Linked DNA regions of Homo sapiens. The protein of the gene in region 1 purifies or fractionates together with the protein of each later gene. This does not show direct contact. Each region holds a gene or a part of one and is shown in the gene's direction. Other genes may lie near its edges.

Evidence for each region.
Region 2: the proteins of MTMR7 (region 1) and SOAT1 purify together in Homo sapiens (affinity purification with mass spectrometry, with the first as the bait; one large-scale study listed by BioGRID). This does not show direct contact.
Region 3: the proteins of MTMR7 (region 1) and TMTC3 purify together in Homo sapiens (affinity purification with mass spectrometry, with the first as the bait; one large-scale study listed by BioGRID). This does not show direct contact.
Region 4: the proteins of MTMR7 (region 1) and MTHFD1L purify together in Homo sapiens (affinity purification with mass spectrometry, with the first as the bait; 2 studies listed by BioGRID). This does not show direct contact.

Annotation. Positions count from the first base shown.
Region 1 is NC_000008.11:17,371,458-17,375,956, reverse strand, and holds part of MTMR7 (phosphatidylinositol-3-phosphate phosphatase MTMR7), read left to right. Parts: intron 1-2,716; coding exon 2,717-2,839; intron 2,840-4,499. UniProt on the Homo sapiens protein: Lipid phosphatase that specifically dephosphorylates the D-3 position of phosphatidylinositol 3-phosphate (PtdIns(3)P) and inositol 1,3-bisphosphate (Ins(1,3)P2).
Region 2 is NC_000001.11:179,341,804-179,346,302, forward strand, and holds part of SOAT1 (sterol O-acyltransferase 1), read left to right. Parts: intron 1-206; exon of another isoform or gene 207-310; coding exon 311-389; intron 390-1,058; coding exon 1,059-1,140; intron 1,141-1,786; coding exon 1,787-1,832; intron 1,833-3,143; coding exon 3,144-3,273; intron 3,274-4,499.
Region 3 is NC_000012.12:88,190,314-88,194,812, forward strand, and holds part of TMTC3 (protein O-mannosyl-transferase TMTC3), read left to right. Parts: intron 1-139; coding exon 140-309; intron 310-2,290; coding exon 2,291-2,517; intron 2,518-4,499. UniProt on the Homo sapiens protein: Transfers mannosyl residues to the hydroxyl group of serine or threonine residues.
Region 4 is NC_000006.12:150,863,973-150,869,007, forward strand, and holds the start of MTHFD1L (monofunctional C1-tetrahydrofolate synthase, mitochondrial isoform 2 precursor), read left to right. Parts: upstream 1-1,729; 5' UTR 1,730-1,850; coding exon 1,851-2,077; intron 2,078-2,360; exon of another isoform or gene 2,361-2,386; coding exon of another isoform or gene 2,387-2,415; intron 2,416-2,474; exon of another isoform or gene 2,475-3,240; coding exon of another isoform or gene 3,241-3,362; exon of another isoform or gene 3,363-3,610; intron 3,611-5,035. UniProt on the Homo sapiens protein: May provide the missing metabolic reaction required to link the mitochondria and the cytoplasm in the mammalian model of one-carbon folate metabolism complementing thus the enzymatic activities of MTHFD2.

The DNA of each region.
Region 1 (4,499 bases):
ATTGAATAGTACATTTAAATGGGTGAACCGTATGGTATATGAGTTATATCTCAACAGAGCTGTCATTCAACAAAGGAAAAACAATGCAAGAGTGACTGTAGTCTCCATGCTATTTATAGTTACTCTGAAGTTTCTAATTAATGCTATTATACAAGGAAAAAAGATAAATATTGGAAAGGAAGCAACACATTATTACAGAAAATATTTGGCTACTCAGAACATTCAAGAGATTCATACTAGAATTAATTTTTAAAAGTTTGGTAAGGACGCAGTTATAAAAACTCATTGGGCCTTGGGCTACTAGCCTTACTGTATAAACAGGTCTTATAAATATGTAAGAAATGCTGATCACCCAGTAGCAAAGTAAACCAGTGATATGAAGACCATTCACAAAAAATACACCATGATGGATAACCATACAAAAGAATGTGCAGCATATCAGTAACAAAAGAATTCTTGTAAAAAAAAAAAAAAAACATAAGCTAGTAGGTGAAGGGCACTGTTGTCGAATGTATGCCTTTAACATACATAGACTTTCACAAGTCCTCAGGAATTTCACAATGCTCCAGAGTAAATTGTATAAGTACAGATATTTATAATACCTAATTCTTTATTGACCTCAGTAGATCTCTGAAAACTGGGAGGAAGTGAGATGGGACCCTCTAGAGCTACTCCTAGAGGGCTGGCTTGGCTCTAAGGGCTTAGAGGAGACTGAGGCAATGGGAGGTCTTGGGTCCTGTTTGCTCTTGGTGTTTTGAGGAATGTTCACGAGGTCTGCTACTCCCCTGGCTCTCCCTTGGAGTAGATGGGAAGTCTGAGACTCCCAAACTAGATCAGGACCACACCTCCTATTATTTATTCATTTTTGAGAAGGAGTTTTGCTCTTGTTGCCCAGACTGGGGTGCAGTGGTGCGATCTCGGCTCACTGCAACCTCTGCCTTCCAGTTGTAAGCAGTTATCCTGCCGCAGCCTTCCGAGTGGATGGGATTATAGGTGCCGGGCACCACGCCTGGCTAATTTTTGTATTTTTAGTAGAGACGGGGTTTCACCATGTTGGCCAGGCTGGTCTTGAACTCCCGACCTCATGATCAAAGTGCTGGGATTACAGGCGTGAGCCACCGTGCCTGGCCTATTTATTTTTTTTGAGATGGAGTCTCACTCTGTCACCCAGGCTGGAGTTCAGTGGCACGATCTTGGCTCACTGCAACCTCTGCCTCCAGGGTTCAAGTGATTTTCCTGCCTCAGCCTCCCGAGTAGCTGGGATTGCAGGCACCTGCTACCACCCCAGGCTAGTTTTTATGCTTTTATTTTATTTTATTTATTTATTTATTTATTTTGAGATGGAGTCTCACTCTGTCGCCAGGCTACGGTACGGTGGCGCAATCTCAGCGCACTGCAACCTCCGCCTCCTGGGTTCAAGCGATTCTCCTGCCTCATACTCCTGAGTAGCTGGGACTACAGGCACCCACCAACACACCCGGCTAATTTCTGTATTTTTAGTAGATACAGGGTTTCACCATGTTGGCCAGGATGGTCTCGATCTCTTTACCTCGTGATCCACCTGCCTCGGCCTCCCAAAGTGCTGGGATTACAGGCGTGAGCCACCGCTCCCGGCCAATTTTTGTATTTTTAGTAGAGACGTGGGATTTCACCACGTTGGCCAGGCTGGTCTTGAACTCCTCACCTCAGGTGATCCACTCGCCTCGGCTTCCCAAAGTGCTGGGATTACAGATGTGAGGCACTGCACCGGCCCACAGCTTCTATTTAAACTGAAGAATGGAGCGAATACAATGCGTTAGTTCCTAAGCTGCATGGAAGCAAATACCATTTTGGCTTGAGGGATGAGTCAGTGTTTCTCTGCAGGTGGTTGATCCTTGGCAGTGGTAGGATTGCTGTGCGCTGTGGTCATTACAGGAATGTTCCTCTGGTGGTTATGGTGGCTGTGTCTTACTAGAATTACCATTGCTTCAGTTTTCTCTCGCTCTGTAGAGATTGTCTTGTCATTTCCATTACATTTCATGTTAGGATGATCTCAGTGCACATGTCCTTAAAATTGGTCTGCATATGAGAGAGGTATGCTTTGTAAAAATTGTTTCCAGAAATCTCTTCTAGCAGTTTGGATTTTAGCTGAGTGGTGATAATGCCATTCATTAGGAAGATTTTGTTATAAATGAATGTAAGGATCTTGAGATGGTATGTTTTCCACATTTCTCTGATACTTTTTTCTCCCGTATGTATGTTTATACTTGCTACTAGTTTGTATGGAAGCAAAGAGCCTTAAGGCCATTTCTACAAGCTAGAAACACATAGGAAAATGTGCTTTTTTCTTTTTCATAGAATGTAATTGATACATAGTGTAAACTCAGAACATTAACACATACACTTTCTGCTTTAAATTAGAAATGTAATATAATTATAATGAAATGAAAGCGTTGACCATTGTAAAACCCAGAGAGGGTATTCTTAATAGGATCTACACATCTTTTGTGGTACCTTTAAACTCATATTTTCGTAACTGGTGAATGTTCATCTTTTAATATACACAATCCTACTCTGAGATCCGATTAACTTAAGGGGAAGTTTTTGGTTTTTATTATTGGGGGAATTCTCAAAAAATTGTATTTTGGAGTAAGTGTGAGTTTACCCTGTTATCATTTATTTCGTGAATTGCTCTTCTGCTTTACGGTAACTCTTTTCATCATGCCGATTTCTCTAGGTTGAAAATGTCCGCTTGGTAGATCGAGTGTCTCCTAAAAAAGCAGCTCTAGGTACTTTGTATTTGACGGCTACCCATGTCATATTCGTGGAAAATTCACCTGACCCAAGAAAAGAAACATGGGTATGCTTTCTTTATTTTTAGCTTTCCTTGTTTTGCGTTGTTTGAAGCAAAAAGTGTTTGCCCTCCATTCATTTTTCCTCAGGGTGAGATGGGTGGGCTTTTGTGCCTGGATGTTGGGGAACTGTTTCTGGAATGTGTGTTTGGACTTTTTCTGTGCAGTCGTATCTACTTGATCGACTATTCATTTTAAACATGAATTATTTGAACATCAGTGAAGAGAGACTTAGAACTAGCCAGAAGATACAAGTGCTTCCTGTCACAGCTGTCAAGGAGAGATTCAATAATGTCAGTAGGCCAGATTCAGCATTGTCATCCTCCAGTGCTCCATTTGCAATAGTCTCTATTTGCAGGGTCCTGTAATGCAGCCATTTGGTCATTTTATTACATTGCCTCTACTTTTCTGATAATTTTAAAAAGAAAGAAAATCTAGAGGAGCTTCATCATCAGGTATTTCTCCTACTTATTAATGAAACCATTAGATATTTGAACATCACTAAATAATAATAATTATTATTATTAATATTATTTTTGAGATGGAGTCTTACTCTGTTGCCCAGGCTGGAGTGCAGTGATGCGATCTCAGCTCACTGCAGCCTCTGCCTCCTGGGTTCAAGTGATTCTCCTGCCTCAGCCTCCTGAGTAGCTGGGACTACAGTCACGCGCCACCACGCCTGGCTGACTTTTTTGTGTTTTTAGTAGAGGCAGGGTTTCACTATGTTGTCCAGGCTGGCCTCAAACTCCTGACCTGACCTCAAGTGATCTGCCCACCTTGGCCTTCCAAAGTACTGGGATTACAGGCATGAGCCACCGTGTGTGGCCTTATTATTCTTTCAGCAACCCAATCATGACATCCCTGAATTGTAGATTTCCCTTTGCTGTATTTCGTGCACAGTGGTACATTTTTAGCAGAAGGTGGCAGGCACTTCTTAGTGGAGGGGAAACTTAAAGATTAAAATGCTGCTATTGAAGACTGAGCATAGACCCTCCTGTAACACCAGAGATGCACTTCAGTATGATTTCCTTTAAAGTTAATCTCCTCTTTAGAGAGTAGAATGATGGTTTTACCAGAGGCTGGGAGTGCAGAGGAGGGGGAGGGAATGAGGAGATATTGATTGAAGGGCACAAAGTTTCCAAAAGACAGGAGGAAAAGTCTGGAAATCTATTGCACAGCAAGGTGACCATACTCAATAGTAATGTATATTTCAAAATAATTATGAGAGTAAATTTCAAGGGTCTCACTGTAAAAAAAAAAAAAAAAAAAAAAAACTATAGGTAAGTGATGGCCATGCTCATTAGCTTGATTTAATCATTCCGTATGATGTACATATATCACAGCATCACACTGTAGCCCATAAATGTGTACAACTATGATTTGCAATAAAAATATTAATTTAAAAAATAAAAAGATAAAATAAATCCCTTCTTTTGCAGCCTGCCCGACCACCAACAGCTTAGAAAACAACAATCCCATGTTGATACAGAACTCGAACATTCCATGTGGAATTAAGGAGCATGGTGGCACCTCCCAGCGGAGCCATCTCTAACTTGTGTTGACTGCAGAAGTTTATTTTACTAACTTCTCATGACCTTATTTAATTTTAGCTATTAAGCGCATTCAATATTTGACTACCAAAATGTTTCCATACCTGGACTTGTGCAA
Region 2 (4,499 bases), on another chromosome or scaffold:
ATTACAGGCGTAAGCCACCGCGCCCGGCCACATTGAATTATTTTTGATGCATCAAGATTTTGTTTCTGAATACTTTTTGTAAAAGTCATTTAAATTATAAAATATTTTCATAATTAAAAACTTCACTTTTGAAATGTCAGATTCATTGTTTTGTCATGTAACTATATAATAAAGGTTTTATTTTAATTTGTTTATACACTTATCAGGATTTTCTGACTTTACTGGCTATCTATAATGCATTTGACTAATGGAAAGGACACTTGCAGGAGACTTTCTTTGAAGAGACATCTTTTTCCTCCTGCTTTTGTAGATTCGTTTTGTAATGAAGGCCCACTCATTTGTCAGAGAGAACGTGCCTCGGGTACTAAATTCAGCTAAGGAGAAATCAAGTATGTAATTTCTTTTGTTCATTATTTCTTCCTCCCCTCCCCTCCTCTCCCCCCACCCCATTCCCTTCCCTTCCCTTCCCTTCTTTCCTTCTTTCCTTCCCTCCCTCCCTCTCTCTTTTTCTCTTTCTCTTTCTCTCTCTCTCTCTTTTTCTTTTCTTTTCTTTGTGTAATTTCATTAGTTTAAAGGATTATTGGCTGGATATTTCACCCTTTGTTGTTTTCTGGGATGTCACATTATATAATGTAGAGATTGTGTTTTATTTCAAATATATATTATCCATATTGATTTTGAGGACCACTTCATTGTTTCCTGACTATTCCGGCTTTGCCCTTGAACCTACAATTTTAAAAAATTGATTATCTTTTGCAACTTTGCATTATTTTTATGGAATGTTAATAGCCTCATTACACCTGTGCCTGCCTATTCTTTGCAAATTGTTGCTTCACACTCTAGAAGTTATCTCAGTCACAGGAATAACTTGGTTTAAAGAGATTGGTAATATTCAATTCGTGCAAGAATAAGAAGTCATTCCGGAGATCAGGAAAAAAGAACATGAGCTGATAAGTCATTTTATTCTTCCCTGTTCTGTGCTTCCTTATATTCCCCCCTGTATTTTTGCTGTGAAAAATCAAAGAGCCTTTGCTCTAACTATAGTTTTCCTTTTCTAGGCACTGTTCCAATACCTACAGTCAACCAGTATTTGTACTTCTTATTTGCTCCTACCCTTATCTACCGTGACAGCTATCCCAGGTAATGGTACTGTGAACCAGAAATGTGGTAAACACCAAAAGTGTGGCATGAGTGAGGTGGGATAGGTAAACAGGGGCCAGTTCATGTAGGGACATAGAAAATATAGAATGAGTTTTCATTTTCTGTCTGACCTGAGAAGCCTCAAATGGTGAGTAGGGAAGTCTAATTTGATTATAGTAATTCTTGACAGAATTATAAAGTATTTCATATGGTCATAAATGATGTTCTGAATTAATTAATTTTTATTTATTTTTATTATTTTTAATTTATTTTTTATTAATTAATTAATTTTAGTTTTTTCTGAGATGGGAGTCTTGCTCTGTCACCCAGGAGTGCAGTGGTGCTATGTCGGCTCCCTGCAACCTCTGCCTCCTGGGTTCAAGTGATTCTCCTGCCTCAGCATCCCAAGTAGCTGGCATTACAGGTGTGTGCCACCACGCCCGGTTGGTTTTTTTGTATTTTTATTAGAGACGGGGTTTCACCATATTGGCCAGGCTGGTCTCGAACTCCTGGTCACTGCCTTCCAAAGTGCTTGGATTACAGGTGTGAGCCACCGCGCCTGACCAAAAAACATTAATTGTGAGGGTCTTTATTCAAGTTCAATTACTTTATTTAGAAACCTTATTTTTGTTTCTTTCTTTTTCAGGAATCCCACTGTAAGATGGGGTTATGTCGCTATGAAGTTTGCACAGGTAAGTTTTTGTAACTGCCTAAGGTATGTTGATTAGGGGATGGGGATTCATATTTATGATAATAATATAATCTAGTTAAATCTAATTGGGAGCTAAGAATGCTTTCTGTTGACATTATGCAGTCTTTTAAACTATTTCCAGTACGGTAAATGGTGTTTGTTTTGCCAACATCAAAAGTAATTTTCTTTAATAAAAGAATATATTAGGCTGGGCGCAGTGGCTTGCGCCTGTAATCCCAGCACTTTGGGAGGCCTAGGTGGGCAGATCGCGAGGTCAGGAGTTCAAGACCAGCCTGGCCAACATGGTGAAACCCCATCTCTACTAAAAATACAAAAATTAGCCTGGCGTGGAGGCACGTACCTGTAATCTCAGCTACTCAGGAGGCTGAGGCAGGAGAATTGCTTGAACCTGGGATATGGAGGTTACAGTGAGCTGAGATCACTCCTCTGCACTCCAGCCTGGGCGACAGAGCAAGACTCCATCTAAAAAAAAAAAGAATGTATTATTTATAAAGTAATTCTAATTGGTTATTTCAGTAAGCATTAATTTCCCCCTTCCTTCCTGTTTTTGGGGGAGGTATATATGTATGTGGGTATAGTCTGACTCTTACCCATTCCTCCTCCCACCTCCATCAGAATCATTAATCCTGGAAGATCCCATTTTAAATTAGTGTCTCAATCAAATGCCCATTTATGAAGTAAGTTCTTTCATTAAGGGGTTTTTTTTTTTTTTTTTTTTTTTTTTTTTTTTTTTTTTTGAGAAGGAGTCCTGCTCTGTTACCGATGCTGGAGTGCAGTGATGCAGTCTTGGCTCACTGCAACCTCTACCTCCTGTGTTCAAACGATTCTCCTGCATCAGCCTCCTGAGTAGCTGGGATTACAGGTGCCCACCACTGCGCCTGGCTAATTTTTGTATTTTTAGTACAGATGGGGTTTCACCATGTTGGCCAGGCTGGTCTCGAACTCTGACCTCAAGTCATCCACCCGCCTCAGCCTCCCAAAGTGCTGGGATTACAAGCGTGAGCCACTGTGCCCGGCCATGTTACGGGTTTTAAGCAGCAGGAAAACAGGTTCCAAGAGTAAGCTCTTCTAAAAATATCATTTGGTAAAGGGTTAGGAAAAGTGATGGTAGAAACTAGGCTTGAGTAATCTCCCTGAAGGATTATAGCAGTCTTCTATACTAGTGTTAAATGGAATACATATGCGAACATTACTGTAAGGGTCACATCTGTACTTTCTTTTGGAGAGAAAAAAATCGCCTTCCATCTTATTAAGCCATCGTTATTATAATTCTGTCTCTGTTATGTTCCAGGTCTTTGGTTGCTTTTTCTATGTGTACTACATCTTTGAAAGGCTTTGTGCCCCCTTGTTTCGGAATATCAAACAGGAGCCCTTCAGCGCTCGTGTTCTGGTCCTATGTGTATTTAACTCCATCTTGCCAGGTAACATGGGTACTTGTTAATTTGGTCATGCATAAATTCACGAGGTAAATAGAAAGCTATTGCCTATGAGCACCTTTGCTTTGCCTACTTTTTCATCTAAACTTCTATACATCTATGCCCATCTTGACCTCTTTTGCATCTACTTTATAAATGAAGTATCCTTCATCCAGTCTCAGGTCAGTCTTTCATCTTATGGCTTTCACTCAAGTTGTGCCTTTCTCTGACAGTGGACAGTCCACATTCATGCTGTGTCTTCCTGTTCGCTATTAAGTTCATTGTAATCTTGCTCCTGATTCCACCAAGCCACTTAAATGCCCCTTGTTGAAATTACTAGTAACTTGTAGAAATTACTTGTAGAAATTACTAGTAATCCATATTCTAATCCAGTGGATGGATTAAGATGTACTTTACCCCTTATCCAAGTTGACCTCCATGAAGCATTGGGTGCTGCTGACCACATTTTTAAATCTCTCTTGTCACTGTTTTCTTGCCTTTTTTTTTTTTGAAATCGGGTCTCTCTTTGTCACCCAGTCTGAATGCAGTGGTGTCATCATGGCTTACTAGCCTCGACCTCTGGGGCTCGAGTGATCCTCTCGCCTCAGTAGCTGGGACTACAGGTGCATGCCACCATGCCTGGCTAAGTTTTTATTTTTTGGAGAGACGGGGTCTCCCTATGTTGCCCAGGCCATTCTCAAACTCCTGGGCTCAAGTTATCCTCCTGTCTCAGCCTCTCAAAGTGCTGGGGTTACAGGCTTGAGCCACCATGCTTGGCCTTTTGCCACTATTTCTTATTTTCCTCCTGTCTTTCCGACCATACCTTGATTTCTTAAATATATTTATTGCATTTTTTTGTCTATTATAGAGATATATGAGTACCTAGTACTATGCCAGGTGCAGAGGACTCAGAAGTGAACAAGAGATGTATTATCTTTACAGTCTGGGAGCTTTTATAGTTTCCCTTACTTTTCCTCTTTTCTTTACTCATTGAATGTTGGTAATGTTTTCTGTCATCACCTTCCCTTTCTTTTCTTCTCTTGCATTCCTCTTCCAGTAACCCTCCCTCACCAGCCCCAGGACTTATTTGAATGAACTCTGTATCTGTCCCTAAAATAGAATATGTGTTACATACTTGAGTGTCTTCCTCACTAGCTGCAAAGTTATTGAGTTCAAGGATTGTGTTTTATAGCCAATCACAGTCTCTCTCATATTGTCTGGTACATAGTTGA
Region 3 (4,499 bases), on another chromosome or scaffold:
GAGTAGAACCCTGATCTCTCAGTCCAGTGTATTTTTTACAGTATGTTCTGAGTTATTTTGAATTAGCCAATAGGAATATGTACTTTTGATTTTTGATACTGAAATATCAAATCATGAAAATGCCTTTTCTTCTAAACAGATTATTCCTGGTAAAAAATATGCAGCCAGAATTGCCCCTAACCACCTAAATGTTTATATCAATCTGGCTAACCTGATCCGAGCAAATGAGTCCCGACTGGAAGAAGCAGATCAGCTGTACCGTCAAGCAATAAGCATGAGGCCCGACTTCAAGCAGGCTTACATTAGCAGGTATCCCAGTTCAACTTTAAGCTATCATTATGGAATATTGAAACTGCATCTCCATGTACATTTTGAATGAATTGGTTTTTTTTGAAAAAAAATTATGTTTTTAATAATCTTACTTAGCAACCAAGTGCATAGAAGAGCATAACTTTTTAGACTGACAGTCAGATTTTATTGATTTGAAATTAACAAGGGGAATCCCTAACTTGTAATAGCCAACTTAGGTTTTGTATTAAGGAAAGGGTAGAAGCAGCTCTGTCTTAGTTGCATTTTCTTCCCATCACCAAAATTGTTCTTTTCCTATTTAAATTAAAACTTGAAACTTACATTTTATAATAGTTACTTCTAATATCAAACTCTCAGGAACTTTCTTGTTTTTAGAGTTGATTGGTTATTGATGCCTTTGACACAAAGAAAACATCTTGGTTCTCAGCAAAAAAAAAAGTTTTCTGGCACCACATGTTAAAACTTCATTTATTTTCTCATGTATGTGTTATCATTTGTATTACTTTTGAGGAAAAATGTGTTTTTAAACTTCGTTTTGTAGCCTGGTCCAGAAAACTAATAGTAATTTGTAACATTTTTTCCTTTGGGGAAAGTACATTCTGAATTTAAGTTTTTGAGATAAAATCTGTTTGTAAGTTGGGGTTTTCTTTGTTCCGCCGTGCCTATTGAGTTTATTAGCAGGGTTGTATCTATAAATAACACCTGTCATGTATTAATTCATAAAGAACTATTCAACAATCTCTACATTAAAAAAATAATATTTTGGACAAACATTCATTCTAGAAGTGGTTTTAATGAGAATATTAATTGTTGTTCCTTTTATTTCTGTGCTGATACTATAGGAAAGAGTAGTATTATAAGAACAACTCTCATATCACTACTTAAATATTATTTGTACATATGTAAAAATAATTCTTTAAGCAAAATTACTTTTTAAAATTTTCTAACAGAAAATAGAACCACACTAGAAAGATTTATACAATGGTTTCTTAACTGGTCCTCAATTCTAAGTGTGTTCCTCAAAGTTATCTACAGGTCAGATTAATCCCTCCCACTCTACCTGTTCAGCTTTTTTTTAGTCCTTTTTCTGTTTGTTTGTTTGTTTGTGACAGAGTCTCACATTGTTACCCAGGCTGGAGTGCAGTGGTGTGATCTCGGCTAACTGCTACCTCTGCCTCCTGGGTTCAAGTAATTCTTGTTCCTCAGCCTCACTATTAGCTGGGACTACAGGCGCGTGCCACCATGCCTGGCAAATTTCTGTATTTTTAGTAGAGACAGAGTTTTGCCATGTTGGTCAGCTGGTCTCCAACTCCTGACCTCAAGTGATCTGCCCACCTCAGCCTCCCAAAGTGCTGGGATTACAGGAACGAGCCACCATGCCCAGCATTTTTCTTTTTTTTTTTTTCTTTTTTTTTTTTAAGAATGGTCGTATTATAAGAAGACATTGATGAGGACTAAATTAATATAAGAAGGGGTTACAGATTTTTAATATTTTGGTTTTTTGCATAGTGAGCCTTCTATTATACATTCAAATATTGGAATTTCTCTTACCACTACTATATGTCATTTTTTTCTTCTAATGCTGTTATTTTGTCACCTGACAAATTCATTAATCTTTCACTCTGGCTAGCTGCCCTTTTTCTGATGCAGTTTAGTCTGTCTCCTTTTTAAGATAAAGTCAAAGAATATATTTGCTCTGTCCTCCTTCCTGGATTCCTCCTGATAGGTTGCCCTCTGAAATCAGGCATAATTTTTTTCTTCTTAAATAATATTTGAAAATATATCAAGCCAAATATACTGAACTAAGGAGTTCAGATTTGAGGACAGTTTCAAAGAGTTGTTTTCGAAAGAGAGTTTTTTAAGAGTCTGAGTTAAGAGAAAAAAAAGCTGTATGTGGAAAGGCTTAAAACTTGGCAAAAATTGTATCTACAAACTGAGATGGTAATGTTGTAAGTAAAGCTTGTGTTTGATTTTTCCACAGAGGAGAATTGCTTTTAAAAATGAATAAACCTCTTAAAGCAAAGGAAGCATATCTTAAAGCACTAGAGCTGGACAGAAATAATGCAGATCTTTGGTACAACTTGGCAATTGTACATATTGAACTTAAAGAACCAAATGAAGCCCTAAAAAACTTTAATCGTGCTCTGGAACTAAATCCAAAGCATAAACTAGCATTATTCAACTCTGCTATAGTAATGCAAGAATCAGGTATGTTTTCTCAAAATATTTCTGTTTATATAAATTGTAGTTTATAATATAATAAGACCTTAATTTAACTTTATTACCCATAGCAAACACTTTATGTATTGACAGTTTATAGCAATACTGTGCTTAACTGATTTATAGAAAGAATATTTAAAATACTTGAAGTAAACTATTTTCAAGTAACATGCATTCTAACATATGATAATACTGATTTTTAATTCTTCTGGCATGTGTTAAGACTAATTTTTCAGGCAGTCTATTAAGCAACATTAACTATTTTGTCATTTTATATACATAAACATAATGTAACTTATATATAAACTCTCCAAATAATATGAACTTGTGAAATTTTTTACATAATTGGCTGTGAGGAGCCAAGAGCATATGTTTTCAAAAAAATAGCATTTTATTTTCTTTTGATTCATAAGAGCAAATACTTTTGGCACCATTTTATATCCAGTTTTACTACGTTTTCTGAGATGTTGTAATTTTTTATATTTCCTATAATTTAGCAAAACTAAATTATTAACCACAGTAAATCTGGATCCTTCATCCATATTTTATATAGGAATTTCAGTTCTGCCTCATAAGATAGTGTATATGATTTATAATCTTTTTAATTTATAAATTAGAAAAATCTATTATAATGTTTAGTTATTTCTTAGATACATTTCGTAAAACTTTTGTAAAATATGAAAGAATCATAAAGTCGTAGTATTTTAGAGCTAAAGAGGACCTTTGAGTTTGCATTTGCCAGTCTTCTATTTAGTAGAGTGAAAACCAAATAGATTTTATGACTGCCCCAAAGTCATATGGCTAAATAGGTAACCCAAGACAAGAACTGAAGCCTCCTGATTTATTTTCAAATTTTCTTTATCCATCGTGCTGCCAAATAAAAGAATAGAGAGAAGTCTTTATGCCTGGTGTCCAAAAAAGTAGAAATTTGGAGAAAAGCTAATATTTTTGTAAGGTTTTCTACCTTGATAATCATGAAGGATGCTCATTATTCGACACAAGATTGTACTATAAGGTTTGTAATTGTAGAACTTGAACTTTTTTGTTTTTTTGGCTTTTTTTTTGCAATAGAAATTATCTCAATGGAGATTTGTTTCCTGCCAGGCAGTGGCTGATGCCTGTAATCCTAACACTTAGGGAGGCCAGGGTGGGGAGGATCACTAGAGGCCAAGAGTTTGAGAATAGCCTAGGCAACATAGTAAAACTCTGTCTCCACAAAAAATTTTAAAATCAGCAAGAAATGATGGCACATGCCTGTAGTCCCAGCTACTCGGGAAGCCAAGGTGGGAGGATTGCTTGAGCCCAGGAGTTTGAGGTTACAGTGACCTGTGGACACAGCACTGCCCTCCAGCCTGAGTGACATAGTGAGACCCTGTCTCAAAAAAAAGAAGATACATGTTTCCTAAATCCTAATTTTATAGCCCTATATTTAATGGTATGTTTTTGTCCTCGAAACATTCCTAAAACTTTGAAGTAACATTTTTTAAAATGTGATACAGTCATTCTGAAGCTTTTTTCTACCCAGTAATAGTTACTATTTGCTGAACATTTTTTCGATATACAACATACAATTATTAGAAAACTCAGTTAACCCAGAGAAGTTAAGTAACATGTTCAGTGTATAAAGTCATAATGTTATCAGAATCAAGATTGAATACATGTCTTTGTTGGCAAATCCCATGCTTCTTTTTCTGAATTCTCTATTTTCCTTCTATTTCCAATTGAATTCTAAATTATAAGAGACATTTCTCTCCTTTTGGTTTCTGAAGCACTGTTACTGCTTTAAAGGAAAAGAAATAAGCTATCTTTTTACTGTTTCAAATATTTTGCTTTTCCTATGAAGACTTCGAGATTTTTGCTTTCTACTTTTTTTAACTATGGAAATTAGTTGTTTTGAAGCTGTCTTTTTGTAATCTAAGTATTTGAAAATGGCTTTGTTCCTCACATTTAATTATTTTATTAACAATATA
Region 4 (5,035 bases), on another chromosome or scaffold:
TTGTTAGGATTGTATGAAGGGTCCTTCCAGCACTGTCCCAGTATGGTGCTCGGCTAATGGAAAACCAATCTCTGTAACTTGGACTAGTTTTATTCCCACCTTATCTGGGAATTATAAGGGTATAAGGTTGTAAAAATATAAAGTTAACAATCTGACCCTCACTTGGGAATCATAAAATTACAATCTGATATCCACTTTACTTGGAACTTATGGTCAGCCCTCTGTATCCTCAATCAACCTGGGACTGAAAGTATTTGAAAAAATTACAATAACAAAAAATAATAAAAAATCATAGAAATAAAAAAGTACAGTGTAATATCTATTTACATAGCATTTACATTGTATTAGGTATTATAAGTACAGCAGGTCCTGGAATAACATCATTTCATCATTTTGCTCAGTGGTTTTCTTATAATGATGAGAAAAAAATAGATTTCTGGCTGGGTCCACTGTCACGTTTTATCCATGTCTGTGTGGATTTTCTCTGTCTTCTGGTGTCCTGTCACATCCCAAAGCCGTGCAGTGCACTTTAGGTAAATTGGTGCATCTACACGATCCGAGTGTGAGTGTGGGTGTGTGTGAGCACACCCTGTGAGGTGCCCTGAGTTGGAATAAGCCGGTAAAAATGATCTCACTTTTATTAATCTTTATTTTTCTCTAAGCGAGAGGGATAGGGGGTGTTTAAAAAAAACTTTTTCTTTGAGACAGAGCTGTGCTCTGTCGCCCAGGCTAGAGTACAGTGACATGATCTCGGCTCACTGCAACCTCTGGCTCCTGGGTTCAAGCGATTCTCCTGCCTCAGCCTCCCGAGTAGCTGAGAATACAGGCACGCGCCACCACACCCAGCCAATTTTCTGTATTTTTAGTAGAGATGGGGTTTCGCCATGTTGGCCAAGCTGGTCTTGAACTTCTGGCCTCACGTGATCTGCCCACCTCAGCCTCCCAAAGTGTTGGGATTATAGGCGTGAGCTAAAAATCTTCCTTAAATATATGCATGGCTCACACTTATTTCAATGTTTAATATTAGAAGTGTTTTGGTCTTTATTTCGAAGTTTAGGGGCGATTTTGTGACCACAGATATGTTGTAGGAACTTCACTCATATCAATTAGCCTGTGGTCAAACTGTTTTCCTTACAGTCATTTGGCTTAAAGTTTCAGTTTCCAAGAACCCCTCCACGATGTTAGGTGAGGACTTAGGGAATGTGGAGATGACCTAAAGTTTATGATGGGAAGATGTGTGTAGGTGATATGCAAACACTTTTTTTTTTTTTTTTTTTTACCAAGGACTTGAGCATTTGTGGACGTGGGTCCCCTGGAGGGGCCCTGGAACCAATCAGGACTATAAAATCCTTTTAAGGTTTTAAGAAGAGCATTGTTATCTCTGTGGTACTGACGAAGACCCCGCAAGCTCACCGAGATTAAGTGCCCCTGCCTAAGGTTACAAAGCCTCTTATCCTCAGGCCACCTCCAGTACAGCAAATCCAAGCCCTCCCGTCTAAACTTGGCGCCCTGAGTACCAAGGGTCACCTCGGCCTTTCAGGCTGAAGGGAGGGAGGCTGAGTCTCAGGGCAGAGTCTGAGTCCCACTCCGCACCCCACCCTCTGTCTGGTACAGCTTACCAAACCAAAGTGCCCAAAGCCGTGACATCCCGGCCGGCGGCTCGCAGGCCCCCGCCCTCCGCACGTCACGGCCGCCGGGTGCAGTGCCCCCTAGGGGCCCCTGGGACGAGGAGGAAGCGCCAGGTCCTTCCCGCCGCCGCCGCCGCCGCCGCCGCCTGCTCCCCTGGCACGCGCCCCGCCGCCCTCGGCAGCCGCAGCTCCGTGTCCCCTGAGAACCAGCCGTCCCGCGCCATGGGCACGCGTCTGCCGCTCGTCCTGCGCCAGCTCCGCCGCCCGCCCCAGCCCCCGGGCCCTCCGCGCCGCCTCCGTGTGCCCTGTCGCGCTAGCAGCGGCGGCGGCGGAGGCGGCGGCGGTGGCCGGGAGGGCCTGCTTGGACAGCGGCGGCCGCAGGATGGCCAGGCCCGGAGCAGCTGCAGCCCCGGCGGCCGAACGCCCGCGGCGCGGGACTCCATCGTCAGGTGAGTGTCGGGTCTGGCCCTGGCCCAGGTCTCCAGCGGCTGTGGCCCCGACCCAGGGGCGGAGCGCCCGGGACCGCCGTGGGGAGCGGGGCGCGGGGCTGCGAGTGTTTGGTGCCAACTCATTAGGGGGGCCGGGCGGTGTGTCGGGAAACGCGGGCTTGGGCACTGCGGCCGGGAGCGCTGGCGGAGAACGGGGGATCCAGTACCCGACCGGGCCCGCAGCGCAGGTGGGCGTGGGCATCTCCAATGGGCGCCTAGCGGCATGGACCGCACGCCCGGCTCCACGTGCGCAGCCGGCCGCCGGCTCTGATGCAATCGCGCCGGGCGCGACCCAGACGGTAAAGGGGCGGTGCGGCTGGGGCGGAAACCAGGGGAGGGGGCGAGGAGCAGGAGGAGGGCGGGGCTGCGGCTCGGCGCGCCGGCTGGCCCGGGGTTCGGGAAGGGCAAGCGGAGCTCGGGAGAGGCGGGCTCGGGCCCAGCGCCGCCCGCGCGAAGCTCCCTGGTGTTGTGCGCCCTTCCCCGCGCGCGGCCCCTCCTGCTGGGCTGGGGTCTGTGGCTGACGTCCGCTTTTCCCGGAACGGCAAAGGTGGAGCCGGGCCCCCGGGACAGCCGCCGGGGGGAATCCGAGAGGTCTCAGCGCTGGTTTCCAGCTTCGCCGCGCAGCGCCCACGGAGTCCCCGCGCAGCTGGGTTTGCAGGGTTTTCTGCGGGCCCAGAGCGAACTGGGAGCCCCGGGCCCGGCCTTTCCCGTCCCGGTCCCCGCCCCTGGGCTCCAGCCTTCCCCGCCCTCGCCCAGAGGGGCGCACGGGTCTCGGGCCTTGCAGGGCGAGCCCTTCGGGACAACTTGGGGGTGGCAAGAAAGCCCCTTCCGCCTCCCTCGGAACTGGGATTAGGAACGAGTTCCAGGATGCGGTTTCCCCGGCCAGCGGACCACCTCCTCCATTCACATCCTCTTCCCTTTCCTTCTAGCCTTCTTTCTTAGTCATTGCCTGCTTGCCTTTCTCTCTGCCTTTCCTTCCTCCCTCTGCTCTCCCATTTTCCTCCCCACTCCCCTTCTCCCATCTCAGTAAAATACGTTTCCTAGGCTCTTTATTATGTGGCGGATGATTTTAAGGGGCCATTTATTTAGTTTTTCTTGTTCTCTGTCTTCTTTTTCTTTTAGAAATGGAGTCTCGCTTTGTTGCTCAGGCTGGAGTTCAGTGGTGCCATCTCGGCTCAATGCAGCCTCCGCCTCCTGGGCTCAAGCGATTCTCCCGCCTTAGCCTCCAGTGTAACTGGGACCACAGGTGTGCGCTACCATGCCCGGATTATTTTATTTTATTTTCATAGAGACAGAGCACCACTCTGTTACCAGGCTGGTCTGGAACTCCTGGGCGCAAGCCATCATCCCTGCCCCCAAAAGCGCTGGGATTAATTACACGTCAGGTCATTAGGTTTTAACCTGCACGTTGCTGAGACTCATCTTACCGGTTAGAGTCTGAAGCCAGGATAGGCGGCAAAAAAACTTCTCCCGTCATGCTGTTTTATTTTCTAGGTAAACTGATTATTACCTGAAACTTCCTTCTTTGCTCATTTCTTGTCTGTCTCACCCACCTGGAATATGAGCTTCATGAGACAGCCGTCTCTTCGGTGCTATATCCTAGGTCCTGGAGAGAGTGCCCAGCATGTAATAAGCACTTGTGAAATGGTTACAGAAGGAATGCTTCAAGATTTGGGGTCATCTGTGGGTTTTATTCATACATATTCTTTTTTTTTTTTTTTTTTTTTGAGACGGAGTCTTGCTCTGTCACTCAGGCTGGAGTGCAATGGCACGATCTTGGCTCCCTGCAACCTCTGCCTCCCAGGTTCAGGCGATTCCCCTGCCTCAGCCTCCCGAGTAGCTGGGATTACAGGAGCACGCCACCACGCCCGGCTAATTTTTGTATTTTGAGTAAAGACAGGATGTCTCACCATGTTGGCCAGGCTGGTCTTGAACTCCTGACCTCAGGTGATCCGACTGCCTTGGCCTCCCAAAGTGTTGGGATTACAGGCGTGACCCACCGCGCCTGGGCTATTCATGCATACTTTTAGGTTTAAAGCCATGACTGCCTTAGAGATGAGTAAAGAGGTTAGTAGGGGGCTTTAGGGCCTGCACTGGGTTCTCCAAACTCAATTCCTTCAGGAAAATGGGAGGAGTAACAGTACTTACCTCAAGGGGTTATGGAAACAATTATGTGAGAGGACACATGCAAAATACATAGCCCAGGACTGTCACATACAAGACAAGTCCCTCAACAAATGGTGGCTATTAATTTTTTTTTTTTTTTTTTGAGACGGAATCTCACTCTGTCGCACAGGTTGGAGTGCAGTGGCGGGATCTCGGCTCACTGCAACCTCCGCCTCCCGGGTTCAAGCGATTCCCCTGCCTCAGCCTCCTGAGTAGCTGGGATTACAGGCTCGCACTACCACGCCTGGCTTATTTTGTGTTTTTAGTAGAGACGGGGTTTCACCATGTTGGCCAGGCTGGTCTCAAACTCCTGACCTCGTGATCTGCCTGCCTCAGCCTCCCAAAGTGCTGGGATTACAGGTGTGAGCTACCATGCCCAGCAATATTTTTACAATTCACTAAGCCAGGGGTCCACAGACGTTTTATATATAATGGGCCAGATAGTAAATATTTTAGGTTTAGTGATCCTAGAGGCAAATCAAAATTATTAGTAGGTACATTTATAACAAGAGAAAAGACAAATTTAGGCCAGGCACCATGGTTCATGCCTGTAATCCCAGCACTTTGAGAGGCCAAAGTGGGATGATCACATTCCCAGGAGTTCAAGACCAGCCTGGGCAACATAGTGAGACACCCATCTCTGTAAAAAATTTTAAAAAATTAACTGGGCGTGGCGCGTGCCTGTAGTTCCAGCTACTCAGAAGGCTGAGGCAGGAGGATCACTTGAGCCCAGGAGGTCAAGGCTACAGTGAG